Regions from separate parts of the Homo sapiens genome. Here region 1 is linked to region 2. Evidence: fine-mapped expression QTL. A gene starts in region 2. The other region holds a variant in brackets. All regions are shown on one strand. Distances are between the middles of the regions.

What was found. PIP is the estimated chance that this variant, and not a neighbour inherited with it, causes the effect. A credible set is the group of variants that fine-mapping cannot tell apart.
Region 1: its variant is the best candidate, but not a certain one, in a credible set for the expression of WDR5-DT in ileum (GTEx, PIP 0.68).

What each region holds. Positions count from the first base shown.
Region 1 is chr9:134,465,712-134,471,071 of GRCh38, reverse strand. The region is part of intron 1 of LOC105376311 (a long non-coding RNA gene); the gene reads right to left. Among named protein-coding and RNA genes, the nearest start is that of MIR4669, 89 kb to the right of the region's middle. The variant A/C (reference allele first, on the strand shown) is at 2,260.
Region 2 is chr9:134,133,269-134,138,628 of GRCh38, reverse strand. It overlaps WDR5-DT (WDR5 divergent transcript), which reads left to right and starts at 2,647. Exons shown (of 2, transcript NR_186420.1): 1 at 2,647-3,443. WDR5 (WD repeat domain 5) reads right to left here and starts at 2,547. Exons shown (of 14, transcript NM_017588.3): 1 at 2,429-2,547. RefSeq lists enhancers at 1,566-2,490, 3,397-3,506 and silencers at 2,417-2,596, 3,037-3,206.

The sequences.
Region 1 (5,360 bases), 330 kb before region 2:
GGCTCAGAAGTTTCCAGGCTCAGAAGGACCCATGCTCAGGAGGACCCAGGCTCAGGAGGACCCCAGTTCAGGAGGACCCTGACATGGAAGGACCCAGGCTCAGGAGGACTCTCACTTAGGAGGGTCCCAGGCTCAGGAGAACCCCAGGCTCAAGAGGACCCCAACTCAGGAGGACCCTGACTCAGGAGGACCCCAGGTTCAGGAGTTCCCAGGCTCAGGAGGTCCCAGGCTCAGGAGGACCCTGACTCAGGAGGGCCCAGGCTCAGGAGTTTCCAGGCTCTGGAGGACTCCAGTTCAGGAGGACCCTGACACAGAAGGACTGAGGCTCAGGAGGACCCTTACTCAGGAGGGTCCCAGGCTCAGGAGGACCTGGGCTCAGGAGGGACCCAGGCTCAGAAAGACCCCAACTCAGGAGGACCCTGATTCAGGAGGGCCCAGCTTCAGGAGGACCCAGGCTCAGGAGTTGCCAGGCTCAGGAGGACCCCAGTTCAGGAGGACCCTGACACAGAAGGACCCAGGCTCAGGAGGACTCTGACTTAGGAGGGTCCCAGGCTCAGGAGGACCCCAACTCAGGAGGACCCTGACTCAGGAGGACCCCAGGCTCAGGAGGACCCAGGCTCAGGAGGACCCCAGGCTCAGGAGGACTCAGGCTCAGGAGGACCCCAGGCTCAGGAGGGCCCCAGGCTCAGGAGGACACAGGCTCAGGAGGACCCCAGACTTAGGAGGACCCAGGATCAGAAGGACCCTGACTCAGGAAGACCCCAGGCTCAGAAGTTCCCAGGCTCAGGAGGACCCATGCTCAGGAGGACCCAGGCTCAGGAGGACCCCAGGCTCAGGAGGACTCAGGCTCAGGAGGACCCCAGGCTCAGGAGGGCCCCAGGCTCAGGAGGACCCAGGCTCAGGAGGACCCCAGACTTAGGAGGACCCAGGATCAGAAGGACCCTGACTCAGGAAGACCCGAGGCTCAGAAGTTCCCAGGCTCAGGAGGACCCATGCTCAGGAGGACCCAGGCTCAGGAGGACCCATGCTCAGGAGGACCCAGGCTCAGGAGGACCCCAGTTCAGGAGGACCCTGACATGGAAGGACCCAGGCTCAGGAGGAACCCAGGCTCAGGAGGATCCAGGCTCAGGAGGACCCTGACTTAGGAGGGCCCCAGGCTCAGGAGGACCCAGGCTCAGGAGGATCCCAGGCTTAGGAGGACCCAGGCTCAGGAGGACCCCGGCTCGTGAGAACCCAGGCTCAGGAGGGTCTTGTAGTTGGTTTAATGCTTTGTTGTTGCCCTCTTAAAATTCTTAGTTATTTCCATCTGGAATGTGGGACCTCTGTTTTCTCTTTGCAGAGGCTCTACACATTCTGTAGCCGATCCAGCTCCCAGCCCCCACGCTGGGTGGGTCAGAATCCTCATTTCCTACCCCAGCACTGTGGCTGCCCATCTGTGAAATGGGTTTAGTGCCCACTTCCTAGGGTGGCCTGGGGTGGCGAGAGAAACAGAGACAGAGTTTTGACTTCCTGGGGTGGGTGGTGAGGGGTGGGGGACAGGGAGAGAAGAGACAGGGAGGGCAGGCAGGGCAGGGACAGGCCCCTGCCTCAGTCTAAAGTCTCTCACTCTTTTTCCTGTGGCCGCCCTCTTCACTCCCTCCTGGCCAGTCCTCAACCCTCCCCAACAAGCCAGGAAGACTCGGCATGAATCCCGTGGAAAAGAAGTGGCTGCACATTTTCCGAGATGTTTTAAACATTGTTTTGGCAAGACGGCGGCTCCTCCACGGCCCAAGTCACCCTGACATAAAACAAGCCTGACCAAAGCCAGGGCCCCAGCCCGCCGGCCTCCTCCGGCCAGCCAAGGTCTGGCTGCCATGCACTCATCACCTTCCCAGCCCTGCCCCTCCCAGATGCCGGGCACACCGGGCGGGGGAGGCCGGCCTGCCTCTTCAAACGGCCTCTTTTTAAAGCCAAGGAATGCCTCTTGATGCGTTTGTTTCTGTGGTTGCTAACCAGCAGCATCGCATGGTCTGGGAGGCCAGCAGGACACCCGGGTGACTGGTTTCATGCTCTGCACAAACTGGGCCAAGAAGGGGCTCCAGTCAACTAGCGTAGCCCCCCGTGGTGCAGGGGGAGAAACTGAGGCCCAGAGACAGGGGAGGAGGTTGCCAGGGTCCCAGATCAAGTGGCCATACTATGGGTGCATTCTGGGTCTTGCCTCTGAGAGGCAGGTCCCCGTGCTAGCCTGGCAAGGCTGCACAGGCATCGGGTTCCTGAGGG[A/C]GCATGCGTGTTGGGGGGAACGCAGGCAGCCTGTCTCCCCCACCTTATTTCTTGCCCCGTTGCATCAACCCTGTGCAGCGAGGGATAACATTGCCTCTACTTTACAGACATAAAACCAAGGCTTGGAGAGGTGAGGTGACCTGCTCATCACAGGCTGCCCCAGGTGGAACTGGGATTCCATGGGGTTGGTGTCTGGAGCTGGATCAGGCCCAGCCTCGTGGGCAGTCCCGCCCTGCAAATGGACAGGCCTTTGAGGTGGGTGCAGAGGTCCCAGCCTCCGCCTGCAGGGCCCTAGGGTCCTGGGATGGATGTAGCAGCCTGGCCTCATATCCTGCTGGGGCACTCGGGGGAAGTCGCGCCATCCCTCTAAACCCTCAGCTCCCCCACCTGTGAAGGAGGGCACGGGGCCATAAACATTAAGGACCTCATTGCTCCTAAACTACCTGGCCCAGGACCTGATTTAGGAAGAGCAACAAAAGGCAGCAGCCCCTTCTGGAAAGGAGGTAATACCTGCAAAGGGCTCGGACGTGGGAATAGGAGTCGATCATGCTGGCCAGGCTGAGACAGGACCCAGGCTGCCTGATGTGCATGGAGACAGGTCAGCCCAGCCCCACCCTGACATAAGCAGACCTCCCTCCTCCCCGAGTCTCAGGTCCCCTCAAGGGGCCAGGGGCTCCAAGAGCAGTTCCCATGGAGTGAAAGAGCTCTGCCATCTCTGATGATGCCACTGTGTCCTGCAAATTAAACTGACAAGAGGCAGATTAGGAAGAGGAAAAAAATGTTTTCATGTAGAAATGTACATGGGAGACCACAGGAAAATGGGATTCAGAGGAGTGGTTAGAATCTGGGGCTTACATATCCTCTTAGAGGTACACAAAAATCAGGGGAGAAGGAGAAGGGCACACACAGGAAAACGAATGGCTTTTTGGAAAGGTAAATGGGCCCTGAGGTGGACAGATTTGGGGTAGCGTGGCTCTGGGACCACGCCCGTATCCGTGTGCTATGGAGGTTTCTCGTCACTGACTATGATAAGAGTCCATCTTCCCTGGCCACTCCAGGGAGGGATGTACAGCAGTTGAGTTATTTCTAGTTCTTTTGGGGGGCTCTGCTTTTATTCAGATAAGGGGTTTCTGAAACTCAAATGCCTCCTGCACAAAATAATTTTATGCCCCAGCGGCGTGTTCTGAAGTCCCTTCCCCTCCCCCAGACCTTCCATCTGGCAGGTAAGCATCTCTGCTTTGTACCTAAAGAAACAAGGGCTCAGAAAGATTCAGACCTGCTCAGAGTCCCTGAGGGGGCACCATCAGCCACCCAAAGCCACCTTGCCCTGAGGCTGCACGCCCCAGAGTTTGGGAGCACAGCTGCTTGGTGCTGATAGGACAGCGCCCCAGGGGCCTCCAGGATGGCAGAGCCGCCTGGGAGCTGCTCAGGGACAGGGTCGTCCTCTGCTGATGCACCCTGGAGCGTCTGGTTGTCCCAGTGTAACTCCAGGCTGCTGGTACCGGAGTCTTCTCACTTTCCTCCCTCCCTTCTCACGGGTCCCCTCTGGGCTCTCGGCTCATGTCCCTGCATGCAGGTGGGTGTAGCAGGGTGGAGGGGTCCCTGGAATGGGGCTGGGGGAAGTAGAAAATCAAAGGCCACCCCGGAGCTCTGCTTTGCTTCCCGCCTCCCCAAGCTGGACACTTCTGCAGGGCCCAGGTCATCGGCATACTTCAGGGGCCCAGCACCAGGTGACCCCATCTCCCAAGTGCAGACCTGGAGTGGACAAGGGATCCGAGGCCAGTAGGCCCATTGGAACTGAAGCAAGGGACATGGGCAGTGGCACATGTGGCACAGAGTGGGCACTAATGGAGGGGCGGCTGGGTGAGCGGGGCAGAGGCGCGTATGGTGCAGAGTGGGCACTAATGAGGGGGCGGCTGGGTGAGCGGGGCAGAGGCGCGTGTGGCGCAGAGTGGGCACTAATGAGGGGGCGGCTGGGTGAGCGGGGCAGAGGCGCGTGTGGCGCAGAGTGGGCACTAATGAGGGGGCGGCTGGCTGAGCGGGGCAGAGGCGCGTGTGGCGCAGAGTGGGCACTAATGAGGGGGCGGCTGGGTGAGCGGGGCAGAGGCGCGTGTGGCGCAGAGTGGGCACTAATGAGGGGGCGGCTGGGTGAGCGGGGCAGAGGCGCGTGTGGCGCAGAGTGGGCACTAATGAGGGGGCGGCTGGGTGAGCGGGGCAGAGGCGCGTGTGGCGCAGAGTGGGCACTAATGAGGGGGCGGCTGGGTGAGCGGGGCAGAGGCGCGTGTGGTGCAGAGTGGGCACTAATGAGGGGGCGGCTGGGTGAGCGGGGCAGAGGCGCGTGTGGCGCAGAGTGGGCACTAATGGGGGGGAGGCTGGGTGAGCGGGGCAGAGGCGCGTGTGGTGCAGAGTGGGCACTAATGGGGGGGAGGCTGGGTGAGCGGGGCAGAGGCGCGTGTGGTGCAGAGTGGGCACTAATGGGGGGGCGGCTGGGTGAGCCGGGCAGAGGCGCGTGTGGTGCAGAGTGGGCACTAATGGGGGGGAGGCTGGGTGAGCGGGGCAGAGGCGCGTGTGGTGCAGAGTGGGCACTAATGGGGGGGAGGCTGGGTGAGCCGGGCAGAGGCGCGTGTGGTGCAGAGTGGGCACTAATGGGGGGGCGGCTGGGTGAGCCGGGCAGAGGCGCGTGTGGTGCAGAGTGGGCACTAATGGGGGGGAGGCTGGGTGAGCGGGGCAGAGGCGCGTGTGGTGCAGAGTGGGCACTAATGGGGGGGAGGCTGGGTGAGCCGGGCAGAGGCGCGTGTGGCGCAGAGTGGGCACTAATGAGGGGGCGGCTGGGTGAGCGGGGCAGAGGCGCGTGTGGTGCAGAGTGGGCACTAATGAGGGGGCGGCTGGGTGAGCGGGGCAGAGGCGCGTGTGGCGCAGAGTGGGCACTAATGGGGGGGAGGCTGGGTGAGCCGGGCAGAGGCGCGTGTGGCGCAGAGTGGGCACTAATGAGGGGGCGGCTGGGTGAGCGGGGCAGAGGTGCGTGTGGTGCAGAGTGGGCACTAATGGGGGGGCGGCTGGGTGAGCCGGGCAGAGGCGCGTGTGGTGCAGAGTGGGCACTA
Region 2 (5,360 bases):
AAAGATGGATCACGCTGCATCTAGGGCCGAGTACAGTACAAGAGAGGGGGAGAGGAGGGGCAGGCCCTGTAGCGCTGCCCAGGGGACAAAGTGCCAGTACAAAACCGGTCCTCGGTAAATGCCAGCTACGTGGTACTTGTCATTAGTGCAACCTAGCCATGCCAATTTAACCCAACTGCTGCATTTTCCTTGGCAGGCTGGACAAATACAGGGAGAGAGAGGAACTAAGGAAATCCAAGCAAAAAGCTGCAAAGTCCACTATAACAGTCCTAGCGTTAGACAGCCAGGCCAGGGCCAGAGCTGAGTGAACTGTGCCCATGCCCTACCCAAGCGAAACACCAGAGGAACAGAAGGCGAAATAGGCAGCTCAGAAGGCCGAGCAGCTCCTGTCAGCATCAACTCACCTGGGTGAGTCTAGACGCCTGGAAACACCCTCAGAGGAGGAACAACAGATAGGCGGTCTTACAAAAAAGGTGTCCAGCCCCTCCCAGCTCAAGCCCAACCTGCCCCAACCTTTGGGCTCAAAAAACATGAACATGTAAAAGAAACAAACAAAACAACCTTAACTTGACTTTTAAGAATATGATGGCTGGGCACAGTGGCTGACGCCTGTAATCTCAGCACTTTGGGAGGCTGAGGTGGGCAGATCACGAGGTCAGGAAGTTCAAGACCAGCCTGACCAGCATGGAGAAACCCCCTCCCTACTAAAAATACAGAAATTAGCCGGGTGTGGTGGTCGGTCCCTGTAATCCCAGCTACTCGGGAGGCTGAGGCAGGAGAATCACTTGAAACCAGAAGGCAGAACCAAGATTGCGCCACTGCACTCCAGCCTGGGCCAAACAGTGAAACTCCGTCGGGGGGTGGCGGGGAATGCAATTTCTTGACCCAACACACCCACCAAGTTTCTACGTCGGTGGGGTCTAGGCTTGGCGTGTTTTTTTTTTGTTTTTGTTTTTTTTTTGAGACACAGTCCAAAGAGTCCAGGTGCACGATCTGGGCTCACTACAACCTCCACCTTCCGGGTTCAAGTAATTCTTGCGCCTCAGCCTCCAGTTTAGCCGGGATTACAGGCGCGTACCACTACGCCCGGCCAATCTTTTGTATTTTTAGTAGAGACGGAGTTTCGCCATGTTGCCCAGGCTAGTCTCGAACTCCTGACCTCAGGCAATCCGCCCGCCTCAGCCTCCCAAAGTGCTAGGATTACAGGCGTGAGCCACCGCGCCGGGCCAAGGCTTGGCATTTTCATGAACACTCAGGTGTCTCTGTGGAACAATCCTTTTGAGAGAACAGGAAGGTTGGAGACTTGATCTTGAGGAAAGCGGGGGCCAAGGTTACGGGAACGGTGATGAATTGGCGGCCCCTAGACCAGATGCTGCCTGGCTCCTCCTAGCAGCCACTGCTTTTCATCCAGGTAAGCCTGACCACCTGAAGCCGAGCAACCAAACCTCAGTGTGCCCTCCTGGACTGCATGCCACAGGCCGATTCCTGAGTCCCTCAGTCCCTGAGGTGGAGCCCAGGAATCTGCCTGTGACATGCAGTCAGAAAAGCATACTGTGTGCAAAGACAGGAATTAATCTGCATCTTAAACACCAGCCGGGTGGCCGGCCCAACAGAGGTGGGGACCTGGCTCTCCCTATCTGAGATCCTGGACAGGCTCCCCGCCTGGGTCCTTCGCTTTCCTGTCTTCCCCACCGGCTAGGACAGCACCTGCCCAGGTCACAGATTAAACTAGCATTTGAGGAGATGGGTAAACGGACCGGGGTGAGTGGAAACTTGCAAGCGAGACAGCAGGGAGTGTCGTTAGCGATGTAACAGGCCGACCTCTGTTTGGTCCGGGAACGTAACCGCTCAAAATGGCTCTCGCAGACCGGCCAGGACAGGTCTGCGGCCCCGCGCGAGGAGGCACGGTGGGCCTACCGTTCAGGACCGAGGACCCGCACCCCAGGACCCCACCTAGCGAGCTGCAGCCTGGCTGCCTCGGGTTGGGGTGAGCGGCGGGAGCGGGCTGGGGGCGTTTCTACGAGGAGGGGAAGCGCACCTCGTCCAGGGACTGAGTGGCTTGGTGGGTCTGGGGTCCTTCCCTGAAGGGGCAGTGGAGGGAGAGGGGCGATGTGAGGCCGGGCACGCTGCCTGCGGGAAAGAGGACCCAGTGCCGGCGCTCTGGCCTTGTCAGCGGTCCGCCGGGGAGGCGGAGGTGGGGGCGCGAGTGGGGGCGGACCGGGTGGAGGGAACTGCGCGCGCGGCCGTCCACCGAGGGGCCGGGGCGGGGGTCCCGGGCGGGGCCGCTGCAGCGGGAGCAGCGCCCGGGGCTGGGCCTGGCCCGAGGCCCGGCGGGGAACACGTGCGGCGGCCGGGTGCGGTTTGGAAGCTTCTGGCGCCGCCCCGCTGCCCGCCTTGTGTTCCCCGGGCCGGGCGGCTGCCCGCTTACCTGCCGGGCCGCGGCGGCGGGGCCGGGCGCTCGGGGCGTCGCGTCGGCCGCCGCCTGGGCGGGAGCGCGGACTCAGCTCGACAAGGCGGCAGCTCGGGCGGGCGCCAGGCGGCGGGGGCGCAGTGCGCGTGCGCGAGGGGAGGGGGCGGTGTCCGGGGGGCGGGGCGAGCTCACAAAGCCGGCCTCTCGGAGGAGCGCTACGGGCAGCGACAGCGGCCAGAATGCCTCGGGCCGGCCCAACGCTTTAAAGGGACAGCACGGGGCGCGCGCTTCCCGCTTAAAAGCTTTAATCCCCGAATTTGACTGGTGCAGGCCCTTCTAATGCACTTCCTAAAAACTGAAGTATAATAATACATACAGGAAAGTGCTAGTGTGCCCTCGCGTTTCCACAGACAGCACGCCCTGTACACAGACACCAGCGGCCCTCCGGGACCTGCGCAGGTGGCGTCGCCCGGCGTTGTCTCCGGAGTCGATTCGGGCCGGGGCACCTCCCCGGGCGACCAGGCCCCTTCTTGATCATCGCTGGTACGGATGAGAGCGGCAGTGGGCATTTGGAAAGCACCTGGGGCCGCGCCCGGGCGCAGTGCCCCCATGTGGCCTCCCACCCCGGGCGGGCAGGACGATTCCTGCCCATCTGGAAGACCAGGAACCTGCGCGTTCACAGGGTTCGGAAGCCCGGGCTGCGCCTTCCCGCGGGGCCGGCTGCCGGGCTGGGGGCTCTTCCCGCCTCTGCATGCACAGAGCCCGCGGTGCACGAACCTGCTCCCCGCCAGCCCCGCGGACTGGCAGGGCCGCTCTGGAGTCACCCGCGCCCGCTCCGCAGTGCGCAAACTCACTTCGCAGCGGGCTCTCCCGGGGCCAGCCCTTCCCTCCTGGGCGGGCATTTTCACCTCCAGGTACAAGGGGGTGGTCCCCAGAGGAGGACTCAGGGGCTTAAGGAGAAGCTGAGGCCCGGTCCTCTGGCCTCAACGACTGCACATTCTCGCCGCCTGCTTCACTTCTTAGAGCCTTGGAGGTAGGCATGGCCTCCCTATCCCCTCAGCTAGGCCTGTGGGTAGAATAACATACAGTCCCTTATTCTCCAATTAAAAATGGGAACACAGAATATGACACAGGAACCCATGCAAACAAAGGGATAGAGCATTTGAAATAAAAATGCCAAGGAGGGTGAGGTGAGCGGTTGTCAGAGAGGTGGAACCGGAAGACTGGCAGTTGGTCTGGAGTCCCCTTCCCAGGAAGGACACAGAGAAGGCAAGGTCCCTGTCTGGTCCTTCAGGGCTCCATATGGATTTGTGTGCCCAAGAGGCCGGATCCCTTGGGCCAGGTGCCCTGGAGCATGGAGTGGTGACAGTCACAGGTTAGCAAACCCAGTTCGGATGAAGAAGCGCATCTTTATCTCCGTCCACCTGGCCGCCTGGGCCGGAATCCCGAGCCCGTGACACGCTGCTCTCCTTCCACCCCACCTCAGCTCTCAGATCGTCCACTTCTCTCCCTCCCCACCCCAGCCCTACCTCCCACCTGGGTCTTTTCTAAACCTCCAAACAGAGAAACTCCTAAAAATCCAGCTCTGATCTGTCACTCCCCAGTTTAAAACTCAGAACCAGCTTCCCACTGCCCTCAATTCCCTAATTCCCACTGCTCAATTCGGCTAAAGTGCTTACCAGACCCCGCCTCCTCTTCCAACCTAGCACCGGCTCCCAAACTGCAGTCCTGGTTCCAGCCCCAAAACAAAAATATTTCCAGCCCTTCAGCCCTCCAGGCAAAGCAAGATAAGGGGCGAGACCCCAGAACCCTCAGAACTCAAACCAAGTTCCCAGCTTCCACTTCCAGGTGAATTGGTCTCACCACCTCACCCCACCCCCAGGAGATAGAACCTTCTAGTAAAAATGAGAAAATCCGGCCGGGCGCGGCGGCTCACGCCTGTAATCCCAGCACTTTGGGAGGCTGAGGCGAGTGGATCACCTGAGGTCGGGATCACCTGAGGCTGAGGCTGAGGCAAGGAGAATCGCTGGAACCCAGGAAAGAGGTTGCAGTGAGCCGAGATCGCACCATTGCACTCCAGCCTGGGCAACAAGAGCAAAACTCCGTCTCAAAAAAATAAAAAAGATGTTCAGAGAAACAGTTCCATTTACTAAGTCACTGCTGGTGGCCAAAGCCTAGTTAATGTTCTGAAAATCTCCATCGTGTTTGTTCCTCTTCTGTGATTCTTATTTTCTCTTCTATTTTCACCTGCCATATTTTTTCCTGAGGCTGACAACTGTTTGGTAGGATATAAGAGGATTTAAAACTTAGTAAAGCAAATTACTTGCCTTTGTTAAATTCTCTTCCTTGCTGGCGTTATATGGTTTCAGAATTTTAGCTATGACTGCAGGCAGGGGTGGATTGCAAAAATTGCTGAATGGGGTTAGAGGATTTTCTCTTTTTTTTTTTTTTTTTTTTTTTTGAGACGGAGTTTGCTCTTGTTGCCCAGGCTGGAGTGCAATGGGGTGATCACCACAACCTTGGCCTCCCGAGTTCAAGCAAGTCTCCTGCCTCAGCCTCCCGAGTAGCTGGGATTACAGGCATGCGCCACCACGCCCAGCTAATTTTGTATTTTCAGTAGAGATGGGGTTTCACCATGTTGGTCAGGCTGGTCTCAAACTCCTAACCTCAGGTGATCCACCCGCCTTGGCCTCCAAAGTGCTGGGATTACAGGCGTGAGCCATCACGCCCAGCCTTCTCTAAACAATTTTTATAAATACAACATTTTGGCCAGGCACAGTGGCTCACGCCTGTAATCCCAGCACTTTGAGAAGCCAAGGTGGGCAGATCACAAGAACAAGAGATCAAAACCATCCTGGTCAACATAGCGAAACCCCATCTCTACTGAAAATACCAATTAGCCAGGCATGGTGATGGGTGCCTGTAGTCCCAGCTACTCGGGAGGCTGAGG